2 separate regions of the Homo sapiens genome follow, and region 2 is linked to region 1. A link means that fine-mapping ties the variant in region 1 to the expression of a gene that starts in the linked region. Tissue or cell type: whole blood. Region 1 holds a variant in brackets; the other region holds the start of a gene. All regions are shown on one strand. Distances are from middle to middle.

The links. PIP is the estimated chance that this variant, and not a neighbour inherited with it, causes the effect.
Region 2: it holds the start of ZNF605, and the variant in region 1 is fine-mapped to the expression of ZNF605 in whole blood (INTERVAL, PIP above 0.99).

What each region holds. Positions count from the first base shown.
Region 1 is chr12:132,931,308-132,939,442 of GRCh38, reverse strand. ZNF605 (zinc finger protein 605) reads left to right here. Exons shown (of 5, transcript NM_183238.4): 4 at 6,288-6,408. Among named protein-coding and RNA genes, the nearest start is that of ZNF605, 21 kb to the left of the region's middle. The variant C/T (reference allele first, on the strand shown) is at 4,743.
Region 2 is chr12:132,952,668-132,960,802 of GRCh38, reverse strand. ZNF605 (zinc finger protein 605) reads left to right here and starts at 4,497. Exons shown (of 5, transcript NM_183238.4): 1 at 4,497-4,560. It overlaps LOC124903064 (a long non-coding RNA gene), which reads right to left and starts at 4,254. Exons shown (of 2, transcript XR_007063552.1): 1 at 4,073-4,254. RefSeq lists enhancers at 4,287-4,366, 4,120-4,948, 5,226-5,520, 4,949-5,779 and a silencer at 4,527-4,866.

The DNA.
Region 1 (8,135 bases):
GGTGCTGATTGGTGTGTTTACAAACCTTGAGCTAGATACAGAGTGCCGATTGGTGTATTTACAATCCTTGAGCTAGACATAAAGGTTCTCCATGTCCTCACCAGCAGCTAGATACAGAGTGTTGATTGGTGCACTCACAAACCTTGAGCTAAACACAGGGTGCTGATTGGTGTATTTACAATCCCTGAGCTAGATATAAAGACTCTCCACGTCCCCACCAGACTCAGGAGCCCAGCTGGCTTCACCTAGTGGATCCCGCACCGGGGCTGCAGGTGGAGCTGCCTGCCAGTCCTGCGCTGTGCGCTCGCATTCCTCAGCCCTTGGGTGGTCGATGGGACTGGGCGCCGTGGAGCAGGGGGTGGTGCTCGTCAGGGAGGCTGGGGCCGCATGGGAGCCCATGGAGTGGGTGGGAGGCTCAGGCATGGTGGGCTGCAGGTGCCCAGCCCTGCCCCGCGGGGAGGCAGCTAAGGCTCGGTGAGAAATCGAGCGCAGCGCCGGTGGGCCAGCACTGCTGGGGGACCCAGTACACCCTCCGCAGCCACTGGCCCGGGTGCTAAGTCCCCCATTGCCCGGGGCCAGCAGGGCTGGCTGGCTGCTCCGAGTGCGGCGCCCACCAAGCCCACGCCCACCCGGAACTCCAGCTGGCCCGCAAGCGCCGCACACAGCCCCGGTTCCCGCTCGTGCCTCTCCCTCCACACCTCCCTGCAAGCTGAGGGAGTGGGCTCCAGCCTTGGCCAGCCCAGAAAGGGGCTCCCACAGTGCAGTGGGGGACTGAAGGGCTCCTCAAATGCCACCAAAGTGGGAGCCCAGGCAGGGGAGGTGCCGAGAACAAGCGAGGGCTCTGAGGACTGCCAGCACGCTGTCACCTCTCACCAGCACTTCGGGAGGCTGAGGCGGGCAAATCACCTGAGGTCGGGAGTTCGAGACCAGCCTGACCAACATGTAGAAACCCCGTCACTACTAAAAATACAAAAATTAGCAGGGTGTGGTGGCGTGTGCCTGTAATCCCAGCTACTCGGGAGGCTGAGGCAGGAGAATCGCTAGAACCCAGGAGGCAGAGGTTGCAGTGAGTCGAGATCGTGCCACTTCACCCCAGCCTGGGCAACAGAGTGAGATTCTGTCTCAAAAAAATAAAAAATAAAAATAAAAAAATAAATGGGATCGGCCTGGCACAGTGGCTCTTGCCTGTAATCCCAGCACTTTGGGAGGCCGAGGCAGGTGGATCACAAGGTCAGGAGATTGAGATCATCCAGGCTAACAGGGTGAAACCCCGTCTCTACTAAAAATACAAAAAGTTAGCCGGGCGTAGTGGCAGGCGCCTGTAGTCCCAGCTACTTGGGAGGCTGAGGCAGGAGAATGGCGTGAACCCAGGAGGCGGGGCTTGCCATGAGCCGAGATCGCGCCACTGCACTCCAGCCTGGGCGACAGAGCGAGACTCCCTCTCAAATAAATAATAAATAAATAAATAAATGGGATCACATATGTGACCTTTTGACAGTGGCTTTTCTCACTTAGCATACCTTTGAGATTCATTCATATCTTATCGGTAGTTTCTTCCTTTTTCTTGGCGTGTGATTCCCTTGAATATGATCCCATGTATGGATGGGCCACAGTCTCTATCCATTCACTTATTGAAGGACATCTTAATTGTTCCACTTTTTAGCAGTTTTGAATAAAGCATTCATCTGCATATAGGTTTGAATATAAATTTTCAGGTGAATGTAAGTTTTCAGTTCACTACTTGAGTAAACACCTAGGAGTGGAATTGCTGCGTTGTGTGGTAAGTCTGTGTTCAACTTTATAAGAAACTGCCAAAATGTTTTCAAAAGCTGCTGTACATTTTACATTCCCACCACAATGAATGACAGTTGCTCTTGCTCTGAGTCCTCACAGATATTTGTCAGGGGTGTGTGTGTGTGTGTGTGTCTGTGTGTGTGTGTGTTTAGTTTTAGCCTTCTAATAAGTACATAGTAGTTTTTCATTATAGTTTTAATTTGCATTCACCTTTTGACAGATATATTGAACATCTTTTCATATATTTACTTTCCATCCATACATTTTCTTTTTTTTTTTTTTTTTTTTTGAGACAGAGTTTCATTCTTGTCGCCCAGGCTGGAGTGCAATGGCACCATCTCGGCTCACTGCAACCTCTGCCTCCTGGGTTCAAGCAATTATCCTCCCTTAGCCTTCCCAGTAGGTAGGATTACAGGTGCGTGTCACCATGCCTGGCTAATTTTTGTATTTTTAGTAGAAATGGGGTTTCACCATGTTGGCCAGGCTGGTCTTGAACTCCTGACCTCAGGTGATCCGCCTGCCTCGGCCTCCCAAAATGCTGGGATTACAGGCGTGAGCCACCGCGCCCAGCCACCTTCCATATATTTTCTTTGGTGAAATGTCAAGATATCTTGTTAATTTTTAAAATGAGGTTATTTTCTTAGTAAGAGTTCTTTATATCCTGGATATGAGTGCTTTAGCAAGTATGTAATTTGCAAATAATTTTCTCTTAGTCTGTGCCGTGCCTTCTCTTTCTCTTAACATTGTCTTTCACAGAGCAAAAGTTCTTAATTTTGAAAAAGTCCAATTTATCAAATTTTTTTCTTAAATTGATCAGGCTTTTGGTGTTGTATCTAACTCATTGCCAAACCCAAAGTCACACAGGTTTTCTTTGGTTTTCTTCTAAAAGTTTTATAGTTTTTTATGTTTAGGTCTGTGATCCATTTTGAGTTAGTTTTGATATAAGGTGTGAGGTATGTGTTGAGATCCCTTTTGCTTATGAGTATAAAATTGTTGAGACATTATTTGTCACAAAGACTGTAGAATTGCTTTTTGTACTTTTGTGAAACAATTGAGTATATTTGTAGGGGCTTATTTTTGAGTTCTGTGTTCTGTTCCATTAACTTGTGTTTTTATCCTTTCACAAATGCCATCCTGCCTTAATTACTGTGGTTGCATAGGAAGTCTTGAAATCAAGTAATGTGAGTCCTTTTATGTTTAAACTATTTTGAATATAAATGTGCCTCTTTCGTAGGCAGCATGTAGCTGGGGTTGCTTTATATTTTCCATTTCTGAGCTTTTGCTTTATTATTTCTTCTGGTCTATCTTCCAATTCACTTATTCTCTCTTTATCTTTTCCTAATCTACTCTTAAGCCCTTCCATTGACTTCTTAACTTTACTTATTATGCATTTTATCTCTAGAAGTTATATTTCATTTTTTTCAAATCTGCTTATTCATTTTTATAGTCTTCTGATTATTTTTCGTACTTTCATTAACCTCTCATTTCTTTGAATATATTAAATATATTTATTTTATATTCTGTGCTGACAGTTCAAATATCCTAAGTCTTTTATACCACTCCTGTTTGTTTTTTTTTGGTTTTTTTTGAGATGGAGTCTTGCTCTGTCGCCCAGGCTGGAGTGCAGTAGCGCCATCTCGGCTCACTGCAAGCTCCACCTCCTGGGTTCACGCCATTCTCCTGCCTCAGCCTCCCGAGTAGCTGGGACTACAGGCACCCACCACCACGCCCGGCTAATTTTTTTTTTTTTTTTTTTAAGACAGAGTCTCACTCTGTCACCCAGGCTGGAGTCCAGTGGTACGATCTCTGCTCATTGCAACCTCCGCCTCCCGGGTTCACGCCATTCTCCTGCCTCAGCCTCCCGAGTAGCTGGGACTACAGGCGCCCACCACCATGCCCGGCTAATTTTTTTGTATTTTTAGTAGAGATGGGGTTTCACCATGTTAGCCAGGATGGTCTCGATCTCCTTACCTCGTGATCCACCTGCCTCGGCCTCCCAAAGTGCTGGGGTTACAGGCGTGAGCCACCGCACCTGGATGATTTTTTTTTTATGTGTGCATTCCGGTTTCTCTTTTACTCTGTACTCATTTTTCTTGAATCTTTATTTGTGAGAATTATTTTGATCTCTTTCTCTAAATAGAATTTGCATTTGATTCTGCCGGATGCCTGAATGCATGGCCCCCTCAAAAACACTTTAGAACTCTCTGTGCTTAAGGTTTTTGCAAAACACATCTATACTGGAGTTGAGCCCACACACCCATATAAATCCAGCTTGTTATAATTCTCAGGGACAATTTTTGACCTCTTTGTGTAACACTAACATTTGAGGCAAGAAATTGATTTTCTTTGATTTTTTTTTCATTGACCCACACACGGAGTACTCCTTGTGTTCCAGCTTTATGAGGGAAAATAACCTATTAGTCCCCTATGCTTGGGCTTATTCTAAGCTTTCCTCCTTTTTCCTGTGTCCCTTGTAGCTGCTGGGACTGGAATGCTCAAATTTACTTGAGTCCAGCTGAAGGCTGGCCTCTGCTTACCTCTCTAGGTTTCCACGTTCCCTTTTAAAGAGGCCAGGACCATTCCCACCGCTCCCACTCCCTCTCTTATATTCCTGAACTTTCATCCCTCAGAAAACACACTTTATTTCCATGTCTTTGCTCATGCTGCTGCCTTGAGAGTGTCCTTTTCCTCATCCCCCTCTGTAACCAGGACTTTCTAAAGACCCTTTCTAAGCCTTACTGTCTTTACAGCACCTAACCCAGTGTTGTTAAATCCAGTGTTTTTATCCCCGTTTTGTCTCTATATTCTGTAAATGCTAGCTTCATAGCCCTGTAACCTTATTCACTCTGGCCTGAAAGGTACTTGAGAATGTGATTTTTTTCTACTCATTTTTAAATTTCTAGTACCTGTTATGGTTCCTGGAATCTTTTTTTTTTTTTTTTTTTAGA[C/T]GGAATCTTGCTCTGTCACCAGGCTGGAGTGCAGCGGCACAATCTCAGCTCACTGCAACCTCTACCTTCTGGGTTCAAGCTATTCTCCTGTCTCAGCCTCCCGAGTAGCTGGGATTACAGGCACACACCACCACACTTGGCTAATTTTTGTATTTTTGGTAGAGATGGGGTTTTACAGTGCTGGCCAGGCTGGTCTCCAACTCCTGACCTCAGGTGATCCACCTGCCTTGGCCTCCCAAAGTGCTGAGATTTCAGGTGTGAGCCACCACACCCAGATGGTTCCTGGAATCTTAATTGCTCAATATGTGTGTTTTGGAAGATACCTAAAATAGCTGGCCAGTTCTTACTTGGGAGCAGAATCACTCCCAGAGGAAAGAGAGTGTTTTTGTTTTTGTTGTTGTTTATTTATTTATTTATTTATTTGAGACAGAGTCTTGCTCTGTTGCCCAGGCTGCATGCAGGTGCACGATCTTGGCTCACTGCAACCTCCACCTCCCAGGTTCAAGTGATTCTCCTGCCTCAGCCTCCCTGGTAGCTGGGATTGCAGGTGCCCACCACCACCCCCAGCTAATTTGTGTGTGTGTGCATGTGTGTGTGTGTGTGTTTAATAGAGTTGGGGTTTCACCATGTTGGCCAGGCTGGTCTTGAATTCCTGACCTCAGGTGATCCGCCCACCTCAGCCTCCCAAAGTGCTGGGATTACAGGCATAAGCCACCGTGCCCAGCCAGTGACTGAGAGATATTACTGTCATTAGCAGACAGAGGCCAGGCATGCTGAAGGGCTCAACTGCATGGAACAGTATTCCTTACCTAAGAATGGTTCTCAAATACTAGTGGCACCTTCTTTGAGAACCACTGTATTGTTTAAAGACAACCTATTCTGGTTTCTTGTTCAGTGGATAGGTACATGGATGAATGAATTCACAATGATAAATATTTTTAAAACATTCCTTCCTCAAGGCATAATGCAAGATTATTATATTTATTATATTAGATTATATTGGTTATTCATTATTGTGTCACAAATTACCCCAAACCTCAAGGGCTGAAAACAACAAACATTGATCTGTTTCTGGGTTTTGGAATCTGCCAGGTACTTGCCCAGTTGGTTCTGGTTGAGGGTCTCACATGATGCAGTGATGAAGGTGTTGAGAAGGGCTGCAGCGAGGAAGGAGCTGGCTCCTCCAGGCTCACTCAGTGGCTGTTGGGAAGCCTCAGTTCCACGGCACATGAGCTTCCACATGGCGGCCTTACAACACAGCAGCCAGACTCCTCCAGAGAGAGAGAGTGCCCAGGATAGAAGTTGCATTTCTTTCTAACCTAGTCTTGGAAGTGGCATCTCATCATGTTTCCCTGTTCTGTTCAGGACAATGAGTCAGTGAGTCCAGCCCACGGTCAAGAGGGGAGGATTATGCAAAAGCATGAATACCGGAGTCAGAGGTCACTGGGGCCATCTTAGAGGCCACCTACCACAAATACAGAAGAAAGTATTTTACAAGACCAAATGAGAACCACTTCAGGTTTAACAGGGATTATGCTTTTCCAGATATCATTTGAGGATGTGGCTGTGGATTTCACGCTGGAGGAATGGCAGCTACTTAATCCTACTCAGAAGAACTTGTACAGAGATGTGATGTTGGAGAACTATAGCAATCTGGTTTTCTTGGGTAAGAACATTCTTATGTAACTTAGTGTATGGCCAGTAACTGGCCTGTGAGGTGTTTGTTTATTTTGGATGTAAGTTTTACATGTCAAAGATTATTTGACTTTTATACTGAATTGAAAGATTTTCATTCACTTGCTTTATTTTGCAGCCTTTATAATAAAACATTCTACATATTTAAGACTCTTAGCCCAGGCAGTTAGGTCCAAGTCCTCTGTGTTTCCAATCGACAGGTTTTCAAATTCTCAAACCTGATGCAATGTTCAAACTGGAACAACAAGATCCATGGATAATAGGTCAAGAAATCCTAAATCAGAACTTTTCAGGTGAGGAATAATCAGGTTTATGAGATACAGTGAACATTTTATCTCAGGTTTTTGATGACAGGTGGGCACTTTTAAAGTGTTGTTTATAAAACTGTGTTTAAAGTTCCTGAATCTTTAGAGTTGACTCAAGATTGGTGACATGAGTTTTAATGGATGTGCTCCATAACCTGGTCTCCACATCGGGATGTGTCTTTTCTCCATGGAGTTTATGATGAAATGTATCCCTCTTATTCAGTGGCATAGATTGGTGGCCATTTACAACCCCACTTTCTTAGTTAAGGCTCTCTTTATGAATTCATAATTTTTTTCTTCTTTTAGATAACACTGATTGCCTTTGAGTTTATTTAAACTTCAAACTTTTAATTTATTATTTTTCTTCTCTTCCTCTAATTTGATATATTTCTATTTTAAAACCACAGAGAGTAGAAGATGAACCCACTGATACAGAGTGAAAATCTAGGCTGGGCGCAGTAGCTCATACTGTAATCCTCATGCTGTGGAGGTTGGGGAGAGGGCAGGGCACGACAGTCACTTAAGGCCAGGAGTTTGAGACCAACCTGGGCAACAAAGCAAGACCCCATATCTACTACTACTAATAATACCTAACAATAATAATAATAATTCAGCCAAATATGGTGGTGTGCACCTCTAGTGCCAGCTACCTGGGAGGCTGAGGTGGGAGGATTGCTTGACCCAAGGAGCTGGAAGCTGCAGTGTGCCATGGATGTGCTAGGCAACAGAGTGAGACCCTGTCTCTAAAAACAAAAACACACACACACAAAACCCTAATACCTTAAACATAGTAAGGAGATTTTGCTTCTTACCTTCCTCTGTACAAACTAAGGATTTTCAAGTCAGTTCCCAGTGCATCTTTCTGGTACATTTGATGTTTAACTTCTCTAAAGCTTCTCTCTCATACCATCACATAGTCAGGTGGGTTTAAGTCTCCATTACCTGCTGTGTGATATTTAATCTCCGTTTTTGTTGAAGAATCTCATGGTATGGGAACATCTTATCTCTCCACTTATTTTTCTATGCTCAAGAGTCATTATTAACTCCATTTGAGCTAGATTTGTGCTCAAGAGTCATTATTAACTCCATCTGAGCTAGATTCTTCCTCACACGCTCTTCTGAAATTTTTCTCTGCATCTGTACCTCTGATTATGGTACATTTTCCCCAGGTAGACTTCACTTTGAGCTCTTTTCTTCAACTTCAGTGAATGTTCCTTGACTCACAGCTTTCTCTGAAATCTCTATCCACGTAGCATCTATAGTATAGTAACTCAGGCCTGATGGACATTATCTGAAATTCCTAAAACAACTAGTCCTAAGATTTTTTTCCCCATAAAGAGAGATTGCCAGTAACGTAGTCTGTGTTCTCTGTGGAATTTGTGGTATGCACTTA
Region 2 (8,135 bases), 21 kb before region 1:
TTAAGAAAGGCAGACTTACAGCTTATCTGCTTTCTCTTATTTCGTATTTTGCTTTCCCCTGCTCCCACTACCCTGTCTCTTTTTCCCTAATTAGGACTCCACATTAATACATATTAATTTACAAAAGATAAGTGATTGTATGGGGAGGAGGAAAAAAGAAGTCAAGTCTTGGCAAGGCAGTTTGGAGAAGGAGGGATAAAGAGATGCAGAAGCAGAAGGGTGAGAAGTTTTGGCAGTTTCCTTTTTTAATATATCAATAGTTCTAAAGAGTTTAATTTTTTCTGTAGGGAAAGAAATTTTCAGTCTCTTTTAGATGCTTTTTAGTATTATTGAAAGTAACTTTCAATTTTTTAAAAATTTTAGACTCAGTTTTTAAAAATTATGCACGTAAATAAACTAATTAAGGTATTTTTAATGTCATTTCATTTTGGTCTTTGTAGTTTGGGGTCTTTATGGGTTAAATAAGACCATTTTAAAAGATATTGACAGGAGGTCGCATCATAAGTACTATATATGAATTTAGCTGGAGTTACTTAAAGGTATATATATATTTTTTTTTTTGAGATGGAGTTTCGCTCTTTTGCCCAGACTGGAATACGGTGGCACAATTTCAGCTCACTGCAACCTCCACCTTTCTGTTTCAAGCAATTCTCTTGCCTCAGACTCCCAAGTAGCTGGGATTACAGGCGCCGGCCACCATGCCCAGCTAATTTTTGTATTTTTAGTAGAGACGGGGTTTCACCATGTTGGACAGGCTGGTCTCGAACTCCTGACCTTGTGCTCCACCCACCTCAGCCTCCCAAAGCACTGAGATTACCGGCGTGAGGCACTGCATCCAGCCATTAAAGGTGTATTTCTTTTGAAGGGGAAAGACTCAGTTTTAGATGGATGAATGTCCATAATTTGGGGTTTTTGTTTTAAAGATCAAAGACTGAAAGGGAAAGAGTTGTTGGATCTGGTATGCTGCTTAATAAGGATTATTTATTGAAGAGTCACTTTTCAATAGATGTCTTGGTGAAACCCAGTAATTTTGGGCACTTAGGGCACTAGGAGATTTTTGTATTTTTTTTGTTGAGGGGAGTCTTATGGGTCCAACGTATGTCATGAACGATGAGCTTAAAGTTTCACAAAACCTAAGTCACTAAATTATCTTGTGGCTGGGAGAAAGAGTGTCTTATCTTTAAGACTTATCTCTGTCTTTATACAAAGTTTTTTTTACTGGCTTTGGTCATTTAAAATGGGACTTCAGATGTGCCAAATGAACTGAACTTAAGAGTTTAGCCAGTTTTTTTTTTTTTTAAACTTACAAGTTTTACTTAAGCCATGGAATTTTTTTTTAGAGAGAGAAACTGTTTTCTTTCCTGACCAAAATTGGAATGAAAGAAAAGGCCATGGCCATGCTCAGTGGCTCATGCCTGTAATCCCAGCACTTTGGGAGGCCAAGACAGGCGGATCACCTGAGGTCATGAGTTCGACACCAGCCTGGCCAACATGGTGAAGCCTCGTCTCTACAAAAATACAAAAAATTAGCCAGGCATGATGGTGGGTGCCTGTAATCCCAGCTACTCGGGGGGCAGAGGCGGGAGAATTGCTTCAACCCAGGAGGCAGAGGTAGCAGTGAACTGAGATCGCGCCACTGCACTCCAGCCTGGGTGACAGAGCAAGACTCCATCTCAAAAAAAAAAAAAAAAAAAAGGCGTATAAATTCTAGTAAGTCATTTAATAAATGACACGCTTAACCTCGGAGAAAAGTGAAAATCATAAATCTGTGAACAGCAAAATTTTCTGAGAACAAAAACAAAACTACCTTAAAGCAGAATTTTAATTTTAGCTCTGTTGAGCATGGAATTGGTTTGCTTAAATAAAGTTGAATCTCAGTTAGAAGCAGGGCAATGTGGGCTGGGTACGGTGGCTCAGGTCTGTAATCCCAGCACTTTGGGAGTCCGAGACGCATGGATCACCAGAGGTCAGGAGTTTGAGACCAGCCTTGCCAACATGGTGAAACCCATCTCTACTAAAAATACAAAAAGTAGCTGGGAGTGGCTGGGCGCAGTGGCTCACGCCTGTAATCCCAGCACTTCGGGAGGCCGAGGCAGGCGGATCACGAGGTTAAGAGATCAAGATCAGCCTGACCAACATGGTGAAACCACGTCTCTACTAAAAATACAAAAATTAGCCGGGCGTGGTGGCGCACGCCTGCAATCCCAGCTACTCGGGAGGCTGAGGCAGGAGAATCACTTGAACTCAGGAGGCGGAGGCTGCAGTGAGCCGATATTGTGCCACTGCACTCCAGCCTGGGCGACAAGAGCAAAACTCCATCTCTCACAGGCTCCAAATTTACTAATATAGAATTGAGCAAAATATTATTTCATATATACTTTAATTTGGTCTTTATGGCCATTTCAATTTTTTAAATTGCCAATTGTGAGTGTGTTTCCTGTTTCTCCCCATTTTTATTTTAAAAAACTAATATGCTTTTACAGTTTTTCTTTTTCTTTTTTTTTTTTTTTAGACAGAATCTCACTCTGTCTCCCAGGGTGGAGTGCAGTGGTGAGATCTCAGCTCACTGCAACCTCTGCCTCCTGGGTTCAAGCAATTCTCATGCCTCCACCTCCTGAGTAGGTGGGATTACAGGTATGAGCCATTACAGGCATGAGCCACCACACCTGGCTAATTTTTATATTTTTAGTACAGATGGGGTTTCACCATGTTGGTCAGGCTGGTCTCGAACTCCTGACCTCAGGTGATCCGCCCGCCTTAGCCTCCCAAAGTGCTGGGATTACAGGTGTGAGCCACCGCGCCTGGCCTGGCCAAAAAATATTTTTAAGAGAAGGTGTCTCCCTCTGTGGCCCAGGCTGGAGTGCAGTGTTGCCATCATAGCTCACTGCAGCCTCAACCTCCCAGGCTCAGGCAATCCTCCTGCCTCAGCCTCCAGTAGTTGGGACTACAGGGACAAGCCACTGCTTTATATATCCATAAATATATTTTATTTCCCTGTAATGTCCTCATCTCATTTATTTTTCCTTTTTTTTTTCTTGAGATGAGGTCTCACTCTGTTGCCAGGCTAGAGTGCAGCGGCATGATGGCTCACCGCAACCCCCGCCTCCCGAGTTCAAGTGATTCTCCTGCCTCAGCCTCCCGAGTAGATGGGATTACAGGCGCCCACCACCACGCCCAGCTAATGTTCTGTATTTTTAGTAGAGACGGGGTTTCACCGTGTTGGCCAGGATGGTCTCAATCTCCTGACCTGGTGATCCGCCCACCTCAGCCTCCCAAAGTGCTGGGATTACAGCCGTGAGCCACCGCGCCCAACCCTATCATCTATTTTCATTCCTTTTGTCAATACTGCTGGATTGGATGTACTAAATGTAAGGTCCTCTGAGCTGGCCGCACCATGGTCAAGCCATCGTGACATTCCCCCACCCTTGTGATAATGTACTTTGTAATATTCCCGGTCCTTGTGAATGTACTTTGTAACATTCCTCTCCGCCCTTGTGACAATACACCCTCCCCGCCCTTGTGAATGTACTTTGTAACATCCTCCCCTGCCCGCAAAAAATTGCTGCTGAGGCCGGGCGCGGTGGCTCACGCCCGTAATCCCAGCACTTTGGGAGGCCGAGGAGGGCGGATCACGAGGTCAGGAGATCAAGACCATCCTGGCTAACACAGTGAAACCCCGTCTCTACTAAAAATACAAAAAAATTAGCCGGGCGTGGTGGCGGGTGCCTGTAGTCCCAGCTACTCAGGAGGATGAGGCAGGAGAATGGCGTGAACCCGGGAGGCGGAGCTTGCAGTGAGCCGAGATCGCGCCACTGCACTCCAGCCTCGGCGACAGAGTGAGACTCTGTCTCAAAAAAAAAAAAAAAAAAAAAAATTGCTGCTGACTCCACCGCCTATCCTATCCCAAAGCTATAAGAACCAATGACAAGCCCACCACCCTCCGCTGACTCCTTTCTCAGACTCAGCCCACTTGCACCCAAGTGAATAAACAGGCGTGTTGCTCACACTTAGCCTGCTCAGGTGGTCTCCTATACGGACGCACGTAACACTAACATTTACCGATATTACTTACAGCTACGATGAAAAATGGAAAAGCAGCCGGACGCAGTGACTCATGCCTGTAATTCCAGCATTTTGGGAGGCTGGGGCAGGAGGATCATTTGAACCCAGGAGTCGGAGACCAGCCTGAGGCTGCAATGAGCGTTCATGGCACCACTGCACTCCCCACTGGGTGACAGAGCGAGACCCTGCCTCCAAAAAAAAAAAAAAAAAAAACAAGGAAAAGATGCAGACGCTTCCTCCTGGAGGCGCCTTTAGGTTCTCTCACAGACATGTTGGGCCAGCAGTGCTGGCTCCATCCTAGATTTCTTCCAGTCCTCCCCAGTTAGCCGCCAAGGGGCTTTTCCAACCGGAAACCTCCAATCCGCGACCCCGGCGGGTGCACCGCCGAGCCCCCCGGGAAGTGTAGTTCCAGCGCGAGCGGGACGCTGGGAAATGTAGTTCTGCGCGTTCACGTCCCCGATCGGGCCGTGTCCGCCGCGGCCCTGCGAGGTCCGAGGGGTAAGGGAGCGTGCAGCGGGGGCGGGACCACGAGGCGGCGGGGCTGGGGGCGGCCTCTGTGTCTGCGCCGGGGATCGCGGTGACCCCGCTGCGGACCGGCTCGCGGTGACCCCAGCGCGAACGAGCTGGCTGCCGGCTGGGGCGAGAAAGGCCTGCGGACCGGCCTGGGCGCATGCGCGGAAGGCGGGCCTCAGGCGGGGGCTCTGGGGGCGCGCGGGGGTGGGAGGCAGAGGGTGGGGTGGGGGCTGTAGGGCGGGCGGCGGCGGGGCGCTGAATGTGGGTGTCGGGGGAGATTTGGGGTCAGCTGGGCGATTCACTGGGGGCCTATGGAGGTCGCTGTAGACTTGGGGTGCAGCACGGGCGGGGCAAGGGGACGCGAGGTTGCCCTTGGCCCCAGGGGAGAGGGGCCCCTGGGAGGCCGTGTGGAGGATTTGTCTGCAGCGATTAGGACTCTGCTGATGAATGATTTGGATGCCTTTGGGTGAGCATTGGAGGCCAGCGGGGTGAATGATGAGGCTTCTGCGGGGGCCTGCGTTGGAGGGCTTAGGGGCTTGCTTGTGTGGGTTCCATTCACTGGAAAGCCTGCCGGCTGTGACAGTGTTGGATTTCACCAGAGCCCTGTGCTCCTGGAAAACAGCGAAGGTTGAGGAATTTCCCACCCTTTTGGGTTCCAGCAAATGGCTCACTGCAAAGATCTCCCGTTCCCTATATGACTTTGGTCAGCCTCCAGGATGCCCCTTGTTCACACAGACCTGCCACGTTGCCGTCGCTTGCCTCATCGGTGACTGGCTGAACTCCACCGAGCGGTCGGAGCAAAATGCTCCTTAAGCAAACTTTAGCTAAGCTTCTTTCCTTTCCCCATTTTCTTGAGCTTTGGCCCATCCCCAGCCTGAGCCAACACGCAGCCTCGCCTGAGAACAGGCTGGCTCAGGGTCAAGCTTTCCCCGCTCTGCTGTCTGGTCGCCCGCACTTCCACCTCGCTTGGCCAGGCCTGGTCTTTGCTAACCTTGTTCACACCTCTCTGTGAAAGAAAAACCCTTTTTGCCTTGCAGAGATGCACGTGAGTCTCGTGGCTTCACGGTTCTTCCCAGAAGCCCGTTCTCCTTCCCCTTCCCAACCCTCTTCCGCGTCTTTTTTTCCCCACTTCCAATAACCCTTTGGAACCGTCTTTCTTTGCTCTGTCCAGTTGTATGTTTTATTTGACAGCTGAATAACAGTGGTTGCTCTTTCAACCCCTGTCTCCAATAGCGGAGGCGAGTATGGGGTGGCCTATGCTGGCGAGTGGCTGGGGTTTGTTTCTGTGCTTGTGTTTGGGGATCTTATGATGGAAGCATTAGGAATGGCGCTGTGTATTTGTGACAAGGGAGTCTGGATGTAAGTTAATGGTGGACCTGTTGCAAGTTGTGAGTGCGTGGACAACGGGGGTCATACTTGGCGTCATTGGAGGGGCCTGCGGGATCGGCATTTGTGCAGAGCCCCACAATCCCTTTCCAGGTGGTGTTTGGGAGGGCCTGTGGGAATGTCAGTGAATGCTCCAGCATGGAGTGGATTAGAGAATGGGGTGTCATGGGGGCGAATGCTTGGGGGCCCCGGGGATAAGGGATTAGGGATCCCTGGGCATTGAGTGACTGGGGTCTAATTTAGGGGGTCTGTGGCGCAAGCCTCAGAATGTCAGTTACAGGGGAGGGGCTCTGTGAGCGCCTGACTTGGGCACCTGATGAAGTGAGTGAATGGAGACCAGTGTGTTCGTCCCAGGACAGAAGCCCCTTCTCCTCCCCTCCCCACCCTTCTCCTCCCCTCCCTACCCTTCTCCTCCCCCATCCTTCTCATCCCCTCCCCACCTCACCTGCAGGAGTGACTGAAGCCCCTTCTCCCCCGCTCCCCACCCTTCTCCTCCCCTCCCCAGCTCATCTGCAGGAGTATCTGAGTTCTGTGGGGATCCTTTGGGACTCAGAGTTTGGGGTTTCAGTCTGTGGTGATTCTTAAGTGGGGCTTTGGGGGTGCTGGTGATTATGGTGTCTGGCATCTGTATTTAAAAGCCCTGTGGGAGTCACTGAGGTCCAGTCATCAGTTGGGCCTGTAGGGATAACTCTGCCTGGCCTGTGAGGTCTATGGTGTGACGTAGGAATGGTAAGTGTCTGGGGGCCTGTGGAGGATTAGGAATAAAGGGTCCAGTGTACATCGTTGAATGGGGGACAGTTTTATTGGCTCGTGCCCTGGCATTGGCTTTGTTATTTGAGGGTGTTGGAACCAGGTGAGAAGGAGCTTGTTTGTATTAGTGACCGGGTACCAGAGATGACTGAATGACTGATGGGGTGGGCAGTGAGGTCTGTGAGGAGGAATGATCGGAGGGCTTGGGATCAATGCCAAGTATGCGTGCAAGTGTCTGTGATGGGTGTGCGGGTGGGTGAGGGTGAGAAATTGGGGACCCTGTGGGTGTCAGTGAGAGGGAAGCCTGGGGAGCCTAAGAGTTTGTTTGCCATTTGCGGTGAATGTGGAGTTAGAAGTTAGTGGCCTTAGCTGGGCACCGTGGCTCACACCTGTAATCCCAGCACTTTGGGAGGCTGAGGCAGGCAGATCAGGAGGTCAAGAGATCCACACCATCCTGGCCAACATGGTGAAACCCCGTCTCTACTAAAAATACAAAAATTAGCTGGGCATGGTGGTGGGCGCCTGTAATCCCACCTACTCAGGAGGCTGAGGCAGGAGAATTGCTTGAACCCAGGAGGCAGAGGTTGCAGTGAACCGAGATTTTGCCACTGCACTCCAGCCTGATGACAGAGTGAGACTCCATCTTAAAAAAGATAATAATAAGTTAGTGGCCTTTGGGTATCTGTGATTAGTGGTCTATACTGTGCCAGTCTGTGGAGTCTGTGGTCAGGTGTTTCTGGAGGCTGTTGTGGGGCCACTAGAGTTACCGCCTGGGGTCTTTGTTGGATGGTCACTGGGGAACCCATAGTGTGTGTCTCTGAAGGCCCTGGAGGGGCGGCCTCTTGGGGAGAGAGACTGGGTGGCCTGTGAAGTCAGCCATTGTGGTCCTGTGGGAGTGATGGGGGCACATGGGGTGAGTGAGAGTGGGGTTGATGGGGTTCGGTGGTTGTGTGGTCTGGAGGTCTGTGAAGCAGGCCTATTGGATTCAGTGATCTGGGGATGTCTTGGGATGTGGACCTGGAGAATTCTCAGGTGGTCACTGTGAGTGACTGGGGGACTTGGGATGCTGGAGGTTGGCAGGGGCTTGGAGCTGCGGAGTTCAGTGGTTTGTGTCTGGGGTGTGTGTGTGATGGAGGCCCTCTCTGGGACTTGGTAATCCGGGGAACTTGGCAGGGCCGTGTTGGTGGGTCTGGAAGCAGATCCGAATGTGAATGGGTCGTGGGTTGGCTCAGGCAAGCCTCTCGTGAGTGACAGGTCTTTTTGCCCTTTGGCCCTCTCCTTGTAGCTTGTGACCGCTGATCAGTGATCACTCTTTTTACGTGATTATTTCCTTTTTTAAAAGTTCTCAGTGACCCCGTTGGCCTTAAGGTCTTCTCCTTGTAGAATTTCCCCCTTGCTGTTTGTACCTCCTAGGCCTCTTCCAT